Homo sapiens: one gene and its partner. The protein of the gene in region 2 interacts with the protein of the main gene of each other region in a biochemical or structural test. Each region holds a gene or a part of one and is shown on either strand. Other genes may lie near its edges.

Region 1 (7,332 bases), on a different chromosome or scaffold from region 2:
GGTCTTGAGATAAGGTAATAGTTCTTAAGCTCCGCTGTTCAGGAAAAAAAATGGTCTTGAGATAAGGTAACAGTTCTTAAGCCTACCTGCTCATCAAAACCACCTAGGGAGCTTGTTAAATGTAGTGCTTCTTGTGTCCTGGACATACGATAAGGTCCAGGACAGGAGACTGATCTTGGACTACATAGGGGACAAATGTGGTCACCTTTACAACCATTGGGATCTCAAAAATAGAAGCCTGGCTATTAGCTCCTCTATAAAGTTCATCTAAATTAAACATTTAAGTGTAAAATGTTTATTGTTTTCATTCATTCATTATTTTCATTCATTCATTGTTCAGGTAGGTTCAGGAGTTTTCAAGTAACTTTAATATGTCAATCTAATTCCAATGTACTCAATGTATTCAGTGACACGGCAAGAGATAATCACAAACTGGGTTCAAAGTTCCAGTAAAATTAATAAGTTCAGCTACTGTTGTGTCAACTCAGCTACAATCACTAATTTCTGCAGTTGCGAAAGTTCATTGCTGGTGCTCACTGGACTCCACGTGTTTCTTGTGAAAGTCATTCAGTCATCAGTTCTGTTATCATGGAACTGAAAGGAGCCTTACAGTTTAACCAGCCCAAATTATAATATCATTCTACAGATGAGGAAAAATAAAGTAAGGAGGTCTAGAACCAGAACTCCCACTCCTGGTTCAGCACTGGAGAGGAAAGATAGACAAGATACTGCAGCATAAAAGAAGGTAAACTCCTCGAGGGCAGGGCTGTGCTGCCAGCACTGAGAATGGTGCACAGCACATAGTAGGTGCTCAATAAATATTCAATGAATTAATGAGTGTCGGGGTAGCAGAGGGCCTAATAGTTGTGGGGCAAAGCTGGCCCACTGCTTGTTTTGATAAATAAAATTGTACTGGAACACAGGTACATCAATTAGTTTACATATTGTCTATGGCTGTTTTCCCAATATAACAGCAGAGTAGTAACTACAGAGACCGTATAGCCCACAGAGCCTAAAATATTTACTATCTGGCCCTTAATAGAAAAAACTGGCAAGCTGCTAGAGTCCAAGGGTGCATTGTTGGAGGCCTACAGAGCATCTACACTCCACACACCTTGTTTGGGGTACCATTTAGAATTCCTCTTCTGAGCCATGCAGTTTTCTCTGTGATTAGCTGCACTGAAAACAGGTAGTCTAAGACTCTCTAAATAAAGTTATTCTTGAATATAAAATGGGTCATGGCCTTCTTGGCAACATCCTTTAACTAAATTAACTAGATAAGACCATACATAACAGATTAACTTCAAGGCACTACTATGCCCATTGTGCCCTGCTATTGTGAAAGATAGGCCCTTTCTTAGTAACATGAACATAATTTCGTTTCATTCTTTCTCTAAATTACTCACAGACTAGTTTTAAGTCCCTTCCTATAACGTTTATGTGAGAATAGGGCTCCCCAGTGTAAAAGAAAATTCTGTCATTACAAAGTAGGTTCTGTATTTTCGCCTGTCCAAATGAAACACCTCATCGCCAAAATAAAAGAAACCCATAAACTTAGAAAATGAAAGAGAAAGAGGATCATCACCCTCTTATTCCTCATGCTTCAGGGCATTTCATTTCCAGGCCTTGGGAGTGTGATTTTAAGTGTTTTAATCAACAAAACTACAGCATAAGTTTGAAAGTTCTCAATAGGATAGGTATATACCTCAAAAAATTGAGAAGAGAAACTAAAACAGATACTTCTACACCAGAGTTCATAGCAGTATTATTCTCAACAGCCCAATGGTGGAAACAACTCAAGTGTCCATCAACAGATGAATGGATAACAAAATGTGGTAGACACATAAAACGGAATATTATTCCGTCATAAAACAGAATGAAATTCTGGTAACAGGCTACAATATAGATGAACCCTGAAAACATTAAGTGAAATAAGCCAGATACAAAAGGACAAATTCTGTATGACTCCACTTATATTAAGTATCTAGAATAGGTAAACTCATAGAGAGAAGTAAAACAGAGGTTACTAGGTGTTCTGGAAGGAAGAAATGAAGTGCTACTGATTAACAGGCACACTGGGATGATGAAAAAGTTCTGGAAATGGATCGTAGTGATGTAAGTTGTGAATGTACTCAATGTCACTGAATTGTACACTTAAAAATTGTTAAAACAGTAAATCTTATGTTGTGTATATTTTACAATAAAAAATAAAAATCATAAAATTCCGTCCCTCCAAAACAGGGTAAAAATCATAATTCTGCCCCCCGCCCCCAAAAATAGGGTAAGTATGGCCCCATTAATACTCAACTACGTATCTCAGCAATTCCGAAAGTGCAGGACGATGCGAATAAAGGACACTACCAAGGAATTTAAGTTATGAGAAACTAAATTACAATTTGATTTTCTTAGCGATAACCTGTAACCAGATACGATTAACAAGTAATAATAGTGAATGCTACGTGGACAGCAATTTCTTTGTACCATAAAAATGTGGTCTTTAGTATAAATCGAATAAGAATACAAATACTTTCCCGTACGTGCCCTGACTCTCCAATTAAACAGTACACTCCTACGGCCAGGGGCCGTGTCTCCTACTCCGTGTCTCCTCTCGAGGTCTACCAACCAGGAGCACCGAGTTGACAAGTGCTGGACAAAGTTTTATAACCTGCAGGTGCCAGTTTCCCGTCACCCAGTCTACCCAGCAGGTAGTCACGAACTTGCAGACCCCAGGAGTCATCTGCCCCACGTCTCCAGGCCCCAGCCTGAACCCACTGTCTGTGGCTGACCTGGGAGTCCCGCCAAGGATTAAGCACTTCGGAGGCATCCCCAGCAGTGCCCTGGCGGAAAAACTCGGCCTCTACCCTGGCTGACGTCCGAGGCCTCAGCCCCAGAAGCCAGGCTCACCTGGCCTCGCCTCGTCTAGCCCCTGCCCGCTCCCCGACCGGCCCTCACTTGTGCGTTTGCTGGAACAGGGGATCCATGTCGCCGGCCCCGCAGGCCACGGCTCCGGCTCTGGCTTCCTCGGAACACGTCCTCACAGCCCCCCTTCCGGTTTCCGGCTTCCGGTCGCAGGACCCTCCCTCCCCTGCCGGCCAGGGCTGCCCGCACGCGCGCCTTACTAGCAGTGGTTGCGAGATCGGAGAAGGGGAAGGAGAAATGAGGCCGGCGACGGAAGGATAAGTGTAGTCACAGGCTCGGCTTCACGTGAAGGGCAAGGCGGTGTACATGTTCGCTGAAGGCTAGCCTCAGGATTCAGTCAGGCGTTAGGAAGGACAATCGCGGGATACTAACGAGAGGTCCTCAGAGCAAAGTTGAAGGCGAGCCGCTATCATCTGCTGTTCTCTGCCGCAGAGAGGACTGGAGGTTCTTGCTTGGCTTCACTTTAAACCATTTAATCGGGGGTCTGGAGATTTCGCTCTTCACTGTTTTTCCTGGCGCAAGCTTTTCCTGTTTCGCATTTGTCTACTCACTCTCCCGCCTATCTACCCCCCATTCCTATTTATCCATCCAGTAAACCTACATTGAATGAGTGGTTATTATGTGTCATGTGTAAAGTAGGGAAAACCGGGTTCCTCCTGCCCTCAAAGAGGTTCTGGTCTGGGAAAGGAAATAAGATATGTATACTCTCAAAAGACAAAATTACAAGAAATGTAGTTATAGATTTTTTTTCTTTATTTTATTATTTTTTATTATTATACTTTAAGTTCTAGGGTACATGTGCACAACGTGCAGGGTTGTTACATATGTATACATGTGCCATGTTGGTGTGCTGCACCCATTAACTCGTCATTTACATTAGGTATATCTCCTAATGCTATCCCTTCCCCCTCTCCCCACCCCACAACAGGCCCCGAAGTGTGATGTCCCCCTTCCTGTGTCCAAGTGTTCTCATCGTTCAGTTCCCACCTATGAGTGAGAACATGTAATGTTTGTTTTTTTGTCCTTGCGATAGTTTGCTGAGAATGTTGGTTTCCAGCTTCATCCGTGTCCCTACAAAGGACATGAACTCATCATTTTTTATGGCTGCATAGTATTCCATGGTGTATATATGCCACATTTTCTTAATCCAGTCTGTCATTGTTGGACATTTGGGTTGGTTCCAGGTCTTTGCTATTGTGAATAGTGCTGCAATAAACATACATGTAAATGTGTCTTTATAGCAGCATGATTTATAATCCTTTGGGTATATACCCAGTAATGGGATGGCTGGGTCAAATGGTATTTCTAGTTCTAGATCCCTGAGAAATCTCCACACTGTCTTCCACAATGGTTGAACCAGTTAACAGTCCCACCAACAGTGTAAAAGTGTTCTTATTTCTCCACATCCTCTCCAGCAGCTGTTGTTTCCTGACTTTTTAATGGTCGCCATTCTAACTGGTGTGAGATGGTATCTCATTGTGGTTTTGATTTGCATTTCTCTGATGGCCAGTGATGATGAGCATTTTTTCATGTGTCTGTTGGCTGCATAAATGTCTTCTTTTGAGAAGTGTCTGTTCATATCCTTCGCCCACTTGTTGATGGGGTTGTTTGTTTTTTTCTTGTAAATTTGTTTGAGTTCATTGTAGATTCTGGATATTAGCTCTTTGTCAGATGAGTAGATTGCAAAAATTTTCTCCCATTCTGTAGGTTGCCTGTTCACTCTGATGGTAGTTTCTTTTGCTGTGCAGAAGCTCTTTAGTTTAATTAGATCCCATTTGTCAATTTTGGCTTTCGTTGTCATTGCTTTTGGTGTTTTAGACATGAAGTCCTTGCCCATGCCTATGTCCTGAATGGTATTGCCTAGGTTTTCTTCTAGGGTTTTTATGGTTTTAGGTCTAACATGTAAGTCTTTAATCCATCTTGAATTGATTTTTGTATAAGGTGTAAGGAAGGGATCCAGTTTCAGCTTTCTACATATGGCTAGCTAGTTTTCCCAGCACCATTTCAAAAACGATGGTTAGATCCCACGAAGTAGGTGGTAATGCCTTAACCGTATGCGTGTTGTCAGGCCCAAGGGCCTCTTCCATCCTTGTCAAAGGGAGTGCTAACCTTCTCTCCTTTAATACAACACAGTTACAGATCTTAACTGGCTATTTGCGATTCTAGCACCAGGCAACACCTTATTCTATAAAATAGAATGAGTATTCTGATGAGCTGAGCAGAGGAGATTATCTTTATAGACAGAAAAGGGCTGAAAAAAAAAAGCAGAAACAAAGAACAAGTTTCAAAGTTATTTTACTTGTATTGGTTAAGGCAGAAGGGACTTCCTTTATCATGGGGATATGGCTATTTTCCCTCTCTTCTGATTTCTCCTAAGGTCAGATGAGCAGCTTAATTTTGGCTTTGTGGCTTGGAACTTTAGCATGAGTGACTCTATTTTGGTTTGGCCTGTTGCGCCTAGTGCAGGAGCTCAGTCCAAACCAATGGCTTTCTATGAATTTTATTTATCAAGACAAACATTCTAGAAGGTAGAAAATCCAAAGAGATTGAGCTGAGCTGGGGGTCGTCTCTAGGAGGAGATTTAGGAGAGACTTAATGAAGGGGTGGCATTTGAGCTGGGACTGGGTTTGGACACTTCTCTGTCTCCACATAGGCTATCCCGTTTCCATCCTCCAAGCTTATCTACTATTCCTCCCAAGGCAGGAGACATTCTTTTCTTGGACAAGTTGATACTTCTCTTTTCCTGGATCCTGGATCCCACCCAGTTTTGTGTCCCAAGAGACTGTCCACCCATGTACATTCTTTTCCTAAAATTATTTTTTTCACTTTTTCTATAATTGAGCATCTACAATGTACCATGCACAGATACTGGAGATAGGAACACAAGCAAGACACAGCCCTAAAACCTCCCATATCTCTCATGGTCTGTTGGGAGAACTAATCATACCCTCAAGCTACATTATTAAGTAGAATACATGCTACAATTGATACAAAGTACCATTTCCGTGGGAAGGGCAAGAACGGTTCATGGACAAAATAGCATATGAATAAGACCTTCAAGAATCAATAGAATTTTAACAGTGTCTTGTATATACTAACCACTCTGAAAATGTTTATTGTGTCTGCCTGGTAGAGATGAAGAGGAGGGCATTTGAGGCTGAGGGAATAGCTTGAGCAAAGGCAAACAGAAGGAAAGAACATGAATCTCCTCTGGCTGGATTCAGGGTGTTTGGGGCAATAATAGTAGTCGAAGAAAGGTTAGAACGAGATCATAGGAATTTTTTTTTCTTTCTTTCTTTCTTTTTTTTGAGATGGAGTCTCGCTCTGTTGCTCAGGCTGGAATGCAATGGTGCAATCTTGGTTCACTGCAACCTCCGCCTCCTGGGTTCAAGCAATTCTCCTGCCTCAGCCTCCCGAGTAGCTAGGATTACAGGCACCCACCACCACGCCCAGCTAATTTTTGTATTTTTAGTAGAGACAGGGTTTCACCATGTTGGTCAGGCTGGTCTCGAACTCCCGACCTCAGATGATCCACCCGCTTTGGCCTCCAAAGTGCTGGGGTTACAGGCGTGAGCCACTGCGCCTGGCCAGGAAATCTTAAATGTCAGATTGGGTTTTTCTTTATAGATTTTTATTCTGCGGGTAGTTGGAAGCTATCAGAAAAATCTATCAGAGGATAGTAATGTAAAAAATTTCTCAAATAATTTTCATGCCTATGTCTTGTTTTCCTTTGGGTCTCATGGCATCCCTGGGAGGTGGATAAGGCAGATAAGGAAATTGAAGTCCAGAAGATCTCCCTTCTGCCTCTCAGTCTCTTAAGTCTTTATACGTATTTAGGCCTTCCTCTAAATAGAAGAAAATGCCACTCTCCAGCTTACTGCATTTTTAACTTATATCCCATTTTTTCTTTTTCTTGTATGGCTAAACCACTTGGATAATTGATATATACTGCTGATATTCTCTTGGCATGACTTACCCTCCAGCCTCTCCTTCATTTTACTAGAACGTTTTCTAGGCTCACCAGAGTCCACTTGACTTAGTCCATTGGTCTCCTTCCATAAATCATCCTACATTATAGATTCATTGAGCTGATAACTGTGTGTCAAGCACAATGCAAGGGCTGATATACAAAGATGAGTAAGACACCACCTTACCATAGAAGCTCTTTAATATACTGGGAGGTAAACATCTATACAGATAATTAGAATCCTATGTGGTGAGTGTGGGGTACAGTAATTGGGAACTGTGGGATGACAAGGAGGGAACACTTAGCCCAGTTTGGTGACTCAAGAGAGATTCAAAGAGGAGATGATACCTAAACTGAATCTTGGAAGATAAGGCCAGTGGGGAAAACATCCCAGGAAGAGGAAACAGCGTACACAAAAGCAAAGATATATGATGTGCAGGGGAAAC
Region 2 (7,775 bases):
ACTTCTAAATTAGTAATCCATGACCCCTTTTACCTGTTGTACTTCCTGGTGGAACGAAATAGTGAAACAAATTTTATTCATACTGTACCTCAGAATAATAATTTTCAGAAGGCAAATTGCTTTATTGTGGAGGTGATTAAAAAGAAAAAATAGAAGACAAATTACTTTTCCAATTTTAAATGTACATACTCAAAGTTAGGCAAGAACAAGAAAGGACCCTTTCAGTTTATATATACAACATACGCAAGTGATACTCAAGTTTCACTTTGAAATTGTGATATAAAAACTATGTTGTTCCATCCACAGTGGCAAGATCAAAATGTTCTAGCTCCAACTCTTCAACCTTGTGCAAGCTACTTTAGTGCTCTGTGACTATAAAATGAAGAGGCTCTATCTGGGACTTTCTAGCTTTAAAATCCTATACACTGTGAATTCTATTCCATCTTTTCTACAGAAGTCACTGTGACAAGGCCAATAATAACAAAAACAGGAAAGGGTATTCTTCGTTCAACCCACACATAGTAAAAATTACCTCTCATTATACATCTACTAAGTGCCAGGCTCTTTCTACTTATTTCACTTAATCTTCATTACATCCTAAAAAGCAGGCATTTTCCTCATTTTACTTAGAGGGTATTAGCTATCTCTTACATATCCAATCCAATCAGGGGTGGAAAGCCAGGATTCAAATCAAAGTCTAACTCCACAAAGCAAGCTGTAATAAACCATATTTCATAACCTGGTGCCACAAACACAAATATCAGACAAAAAAGTGGTGGGCTGTGATTATGGTATGACTCTGGTAATCTAGACAGAACATGATCTTCTAGTAGGGTAGCTCAGGCTGCCTTGTTGCCAAGTGGGAATGGATGAGTGAAGCCAAATGTGTGCGTGTGTTACAGTGAGAGACAGAAAAGTGATTTTCAAATGAAAGAAACAGATTTACCGGCTTTCATCTTATGCTTTAAACAATTCTAACCAGACCTGCGCAGTTATTTTTTTTTTTTTTGAGATGGAGTCTCTTCATGCTGCCCAGGCTAGTCTCAAACTCCTGGGCTCAAGCGATCCTCCTGGCTTAGCATCCCCTTAGCTGGGATTATAGGCCTGTGTCACTGCGACTAGCTGCAGTTAATTTTAGTAATACTATATAAAGTTCCCAAAAAGTATTGAAATACAGGCATGAGCAATAAAGTGAAGGCTTTGAAGTAAGGTACCTCTTGGTTGAATCCTGGCTCTATTATTAGCAGTGTGACATTGGTCAAGTTACTTCACCCCTTTTTTTTTTTTTTTTTTTTGAGACAGAGTTTCGCTCTTGTTGCCCAGGCTAGAGTGCAATGGCACGATCTCTGCTCACCGTAACCTCCGCCTCCCGAGTTCAAGCGATTCTCCTGCCTCAGCCTTCCGAGTGGCTGGGATTACAGGCATGTGCCACCACGGCCGGCTAATTCTGTATTTTTAGTAGAGACGGGGTTTCTCCATGTTGGTCAGGCTGGTCTCGAACTCCCGACCTCAGGTGATCCGCCGGCCTCAGCCTCCCAAAGTGCTGGGATTAGAGGCGTGAGCCACCGCGTCCGGCCTACTTCACCCCTCTCAGTCTCATTTTTTGACTTTTAAGGTGAGAATACTCTCACCTATCTTGCAGGGTAGTTAACGATTAAAGCATAATGTGGAATATAAAGAGCTCAGCACAGAACCTAGCACAAGGTAAGAGCCTGACAAATGAAAGCTACTATATTATCCCTCAGGATCCCATTAACAAAGTTAGCCATTAAAGTGTTATACTTAGTCTCTTTTATGTAGATCTAAAATTCTTCTCAAATAAAAAGTTTATTTCAAAAAGGCATACACCCTCGATTCCATTAAACACTAACCAAACTTCAAAATAAGTGTATTCTAAACCTAGAATCTAAGCAACTATTAAATAATGTTTTCAGCGGCTAACCATTTTTTTTTTTTTTTAAATAACGCCGCAAATCATGTCATTAGGAGTTCAGGCAGAAAGCGGTGGACGTGTCCCCAAAGCAGTTTGAGCGCTTAAGATCCCTACTACGTTCAAGGTAGCATTTGCCAAATGATATATATTTGGGTGAGCCCGAAAAGCCGGATCTGAACAAATAACACCAGGCAGAACGACCGCTCTTCCAGTTGATGGGACAGGAGCAGGTGGATTTGTCCTTCAAAGAATATCGTTTTATTCTTAGCCAAATGCTCTCACCAACAGCTGGGTTTTAAACCTTCTCGCAGTTTTCCCCAACGCCCCAGTTTCAGACTGCGAGGGAGGGAGCAGGACTTCAGGCTCCTCTCGGCCAGTGCAGACGAGCGAAAGAGAAAGAGGGAGGGGCCCACGGCCCCGAGGGGCGTGGGAGGCAGTTCGGGCCAGCTCGGCCGCGCATCCGTCCCTTCCCGTGCGGTACCACCTGCGGACCACTCTCCTAGCCCGAGCTTCAGGGCCTACAGAGCTGCGGGGCGCGGCCGCCGTCAGTCCGGCCGAACGGCAGCAATGGGGACTGAGCTGGGGGCGTGATTGAATAACTCTGGGATTTCAGGAGCGGAAGGAGGGCAAAGGGGGAGGCGGCATGTGGATGCCCCCTCCATGGTGGGACGCTGGAGGTGACCTTCGGGTCTCCGAGTGCTCCGTCCCCGTCCCTGCCCGGACCCCTTCCCAAGTCCCAGACCCGCTGCTCCTCTCACCGTCTCGGCTTCTGTGTGCTGGGGTCCGGCACTCTGACCCCCCATTACCCCGCGGAGGAAATTCATCTTGCCGTTCAGCCACCAGGTTTACCGGCCCCTCCGGAAAAAAAAGAAGACAACTTCCCCCGCCCTCCGCAGGGCCTGGGCCCCAATCCCGCACTCTACACACTCCTACTGCTGCCACCACCGCCTCCAACTCGGCGGCCACTCCAGCCCTCTAAGCCCGGAAACAGCCGCCAGCAGCGGCCAAGATGCGCATGCGCGGGGACGTGGCATTACGTGGCGGCTCGAAGGTTGAAGGCAAAAGGGGAGCGGAGGCGAGAGGAACCTCTTAGCTAGGTTCCGCCGAAGCCCCACCCACTGCGCAGACCCCGCCTCCCACCGCAGGGGCACGCCTCCTACCCCCACCCTTCGCGGATTGATCCTGCTGGCCGCAGCCACCCACGTGGTGGAAGCCCGGCCCTGCAGGCTGGAGAGGATTTGATTAGACTACGCGTTTCGACTTGCAGGGTGTTTAATCGTCGCCAAGCGGGACTTACTGCAAGCTATCAAATCTGAGGTCTTATTTTGTTGAGTCGAAAGTGAAATTTTCCTTTGGCCAACGTGACAGGTAAGGCTTCCTGGCGCCTGAGAGGGTTCGCTTGGTTTGACGGTTTACTGGTACCAGCATTGTGGCTTTCTGATCCCGGTAAATTGCATTTCTTTACAGGGCTTTGTTTGGTGGTAAAAAGGGTTACTAGACACCCCTCATTCCACTGCCACTGGAGGGCGCATTTCTCAGCTCTTGCTCTTCAAACCTGCTGAAAGGAATTCCTAGATCTAAACACCAGGTACACCTCTATTTTCAAGTGTCGTCAGGAGGAAACCCATCAAACCCTACATTTAGCTTACTAGAGAAATACATTGTTCTGCTGTGTCAGTTTGGCGAGTAACATAATGTTTCGTTATTAACTCTCAACCCCTGTGTTTTCAGTTTTTTTTTTTTTAACATGAAAAATTGTCATTTTCTCTAATTGGTATGCCTGTTCCTTTGGCAGTGAGGTTGTCAGTACACATGCTTCTGGAATAGTCTTGTAAATTTCTTGAGGCTAAAAAGCACAGGTCTAGTTAGCTAACTGACTCATGCACCTCTCCCCTTGGATTCCCCACAGGTCTCAGATTCAGCATTTAAAATTGAACTCGTCATCTTTCCCTGCCTCCCTTAAAGAAAAAAAGTCAATATGCTGCTTCTACTGTGTGCGTGCCGTGCTCAGTAGTACCACTGTCCAAATAATTGCCTAAGCTAGACAGAGGAAGCTGGGAAGAATCTTAGACTCTGGCTTTCCACCCACACATGTCCAATCAATAGTCATGTCCTATCATTTCTATTTATAGAATATTTCTCAAATAGGTGTTCTGCTCTCCATCCTCTGTGCCTGTGACATAGATTATGTTCTTCTCATCATTTCTCATTGAGATGACAGCAACAGCCTCCTAATTAGTTTGTCTGCATTCAGCCCTGGCTTCCTTCCAGTCCAATCTCCAGTCCATCCTTGGGTGAGACTAACAACAACAAAACATCTGTTCATGTCATTCCTCTTAAAATCCTCCAGTTGTTCCCCATTCTGTCCAGAATAAAGTGCAAACTCCTTAGTTTGTCATACAGGCCTGTTATGATTTAGCTCCTGCCTACTTTTTCAGCTCCTGCCTCCCCCACATACTCTGGGCATTTTTCTCAGACCTGGATATGCCCTTCCCTTCCTTTCTCTTCATCAAGCAAACTCCTGCTAATTCCTTAAGGCTCAACTCTGACATCATTCTTGAAAGCTTTCCCTAAAATGTAGGTACACATCTATATGTTAGCACTTTGCAGTTATTGATACTGTATATGGTGTACATTGAATAAATGCTTGCTAAACCAAACTGTTAAGGGCAGGACTATGTTATTCATTTTATATCTCTGTTGCTTACCACTGTCTCATAAAAGGTGATATTGATGGATAAATGAATAAATTATTGAAAGAATATATGAATATTATACTAAGAGGAGGTTCCCTTTTTTTAATCTGTAAAGTGAAATTGTAGGGAAGACATCATAAGCTATGTGTTTCCTAGTGCCAACATTTTAAGCCTGGGCAACTTGGAGAATGGTGGGGTCATACTGCCAAAAATACTGTGCGCTAAGCATTGTCCTCTGCTTTAAAGCTATACACTTGACATTTTACCGTAGACATTTTCCATGGGAGCATTTTGTTGCAGCCTAAAAAAAGTAACCAGTAAATTACTCAGCATTTTTGTTACTAAGAAATGCATGCAAAGAACTTCACTTAAGCCCCTAAGCCTCACCCCTCCCTGAACCTCACTTCACCTTGTCCCTGAAACTCACTCTACCCCATCATCAGGAATGAGGCTCATAGACGGAGTGGGCCACAAATGTCTATTACTCCTCTTATTTAATAATTAAAAAGAGTGCCTTGACATTTTAGCAAAGTTGTTTAAAGGCACCAGCCTTGTCAAATGTCCTGTTTTGTTTTAAACTTTGGTGGGTACAGTAGGTTACTGTACTTCAGTGAGTAAAGTAGGTTACTATACTTTCGTGAGTGTAGTAGTAACAGCTTACTATGAATTTTCCCTGCATTTGACCTGTTTTCTTCCCCAGCAGCATCCCCTGCACAGGAGTGATGGACAGTTGGGTGCAAAGGTGATGAAGGTGGGATCCCCGAGGCATTGTCACTACAGAACAACCATGAAATAGACTCCTTATTTCAGAGGAAGAGTTACATATTAATCCACTTCTACTGATTTTGTAGAGGGAGAAAAGTCAGGGACTGTGTTGTATTCCTGTTTGCATCCTTTAATCATCTAGTATAATTCCTTTAATATGGTAGATGCTCAGGAACTACCTGAGTTAATAAAGGAAGAGAAAACTTGAACAAATTGTGACGGCCTGACTTGCACTGTTAATACTTCTGGCTTTCATAAATCTAAGCATTCAGGATAAGAGTCCTATGAATCATTAAAATACATATAATCAAAATTAAGAGTGATCTTTTTCTAAACCAAACCTGACAATAGATCAACGAACAAAATTCATTGGTTTGAAATTCATTTTTTCAAATTGCTTTTTTCAGTGGCCCACTTAACTTTCTAGTGGAAAACTCGCAAAAACAACGAAATATAATTGCATAAGATTGTTTTTTAGTTGGGGTGGTAGTAAGGTGGAATGTTGTCTATGCCTGCTTGGGAGGATAAATATAAATGATCATTTGTATTTGAAATCTATCATATATAGGTTTTTATTTATTTATTATTTTGGTAGGTTATAAGCCCCTTCAGTATCGTATATAGGTTTTTAAAGACGTAGCTCATGGCTATAATCCCAGCACTTTGGGAGGCCAAGGTGGGAGGATCATTTAAGCTCAGGAGTTCAACACCAGCCTGGGCAATGTGGCAAAACCCTGTCTCTACAAAAAATAAAATATTAGCTGAGCATGGTGGCATGCGCCTGTATTCCCAGCCAGTAGTCCCACTTACTTGGGAGGGTGTGGGAGGATCGCTGGAGCCTGGGAGATCAAGGCTGCATTGAGCCATGATTGTGCCACTGCATTCCAGCTGGGAGGATGGAGTGAGACCCTGTCCCAAAAAAAAAAAAAAAAGACTAGTTGAGGCTGGGCGAGGTGGCTCACGCCTGTAATCCCAGCACTTTGGGAGGCTGAGGTGGACGGATCACCTGAAGTTGGGAGTTCCAGACCAGCCTGACCAACATGGAGAAACCCCGTTGTCTACTAAAAATACAAAATTAGCTCGGCGTGGTGGCACATACATCCTGGAACTCCTGGGTTCAAGAGCTCTTCCTGCCTCAGCCTCCTGAGTAGCTAGGACTACAGGTGCACACCATCATGCCTGGCTAATTTTTTTTTTTTTTTTTTTTTTGTAGAGATGAAGTCTTGCTATGTTACCCAGACTGATGTCAAACTCCCGGCCTCAAGCTATTCTCCTGCCTCAGCCTCCCAAAATACTGGGATTGCAGGTGTGAGCCAACTGCCCCAGGCTTCAAAATATTTTTATTTATTTATTTATTTATTTATTTATTTATTTATTTATTTATTTTGAGATGGAGCCTCGCTCTGTCACCCAGGCTGGAGTGTAGTGGCGCGATCTCGGCTCACTGCAACCTCGGCCTCCCGGGTTCAAGCGATTCTCCTGCCTCAGCCTTCCAAGTAGCTGGGAATAGAGGCACATGCCACCATGCCTGGCTAATTTTTTGTATTTTTAGTAGAGACAGGTTTTCACCGTGTTAGTTAGGATGGCCTCGATCTCCTGACCTTATGATCCGCCTGCCTCAGCCTCTCAAAGTGCGTGAGCCACCGCGCCTAGCCCTCAAAATATTTTTTTTTTTTTTTTTGAGACGGAGTCTCGCTCTGTTGCCCAGGCTGGAGTGCAGTGACGCGATCTCAGCTCACTGCAAGCTCTGCCTCCTGGGTTCATGCCATTCTCCTGCCTCAGCCTCTGGAGTAGCTGGGACTACAGGCGCCCGCCACCGCGCCCGGCTAATTTTTTGTATTTTTGGTAGAGACGGAGTTTCTCCGTGGTCTCGATCTCCTCATCTCGTGATCCGCCCGCCTCGGCCTCCCAGAGTGCTGGGATTACAGGCATGAGCCACCGCGCCCGGCGCCCTCAAAATATTTTTAAAAGCCTTAGGAAATCCTTGGGAGAGGAGAGTCCAAGAAAGAAGGTTTTGGTAGCTGGGCGTGGTGGCCTATCATTCCAGCTATGCGCAGGAGGCTGAGGCATGAGAATTGCTTGAAGTTGCAGTGAGTCAAGATTGTGCCACTGCACTCCAGCCCAGGTGACGGAGTGAGACCCTTTCTCAAAAAAAAAAAAGGGTTCTGGGCCCCCCCATCCTGCTCCATTTGATTGGTTTCATTTGTTTATACTTCCTGTTTCGCTTGAACAAAAAGATTCAGAGGCTAAAATGTTGGACAGCTACCTCTCTCAGGAGATAAGAAATGAGACCAGGCCGGGCACGGTAACTCACCCTTGTAATCCCAGCACTTTGGGAGGCCGAGGCGGGTGGATCACCTGAGGTCGGGAGCTTGAGACCA

Evidence for each region. Proteins that work in one complex are often made in the same cells at the same time.
Region 1: the proteins of USO1 (region 2) and GOSR2 form a complex in vitro, tested with the Homo sapiens proteins (one study listed by BioGRID).

Annotation. Positions count from the first base shown.
Region 1 is NC_000017.11:46,918,842-46,926,173, reverse strand, and holds the start of GOSR2 (Golgi SNAP receptor complex member 2), read right to left. Parts: upstream 3,015-7,332; 5' UTR 2,982-3,014; coding exon 2,953-2,981; exon of another isoform or gene 2,542-2,952; intron 1-2,541. UniProt on the Homo sapiens protein: Involved in transport of proteins from the cis/medial-Golgi to the trans-Golgi network.
Region 2 is NC_000004.12:75,719,802-75,727,576, reverse strand, and holds the start of USO1 (general vesicular transport factor p115), read right to left. Parts: upstream 3,001-7,775; 5' UTR 2,758-3,000; coding exon 2,692-2,757; intron 1-2,691. UniProt on the Homo sapiens protein: General vesicular transport factor required for intercisternal transport in the Golgi stack; it is required for transcytotic fusion and/or subsequent binding of the vesicles to the target membrane.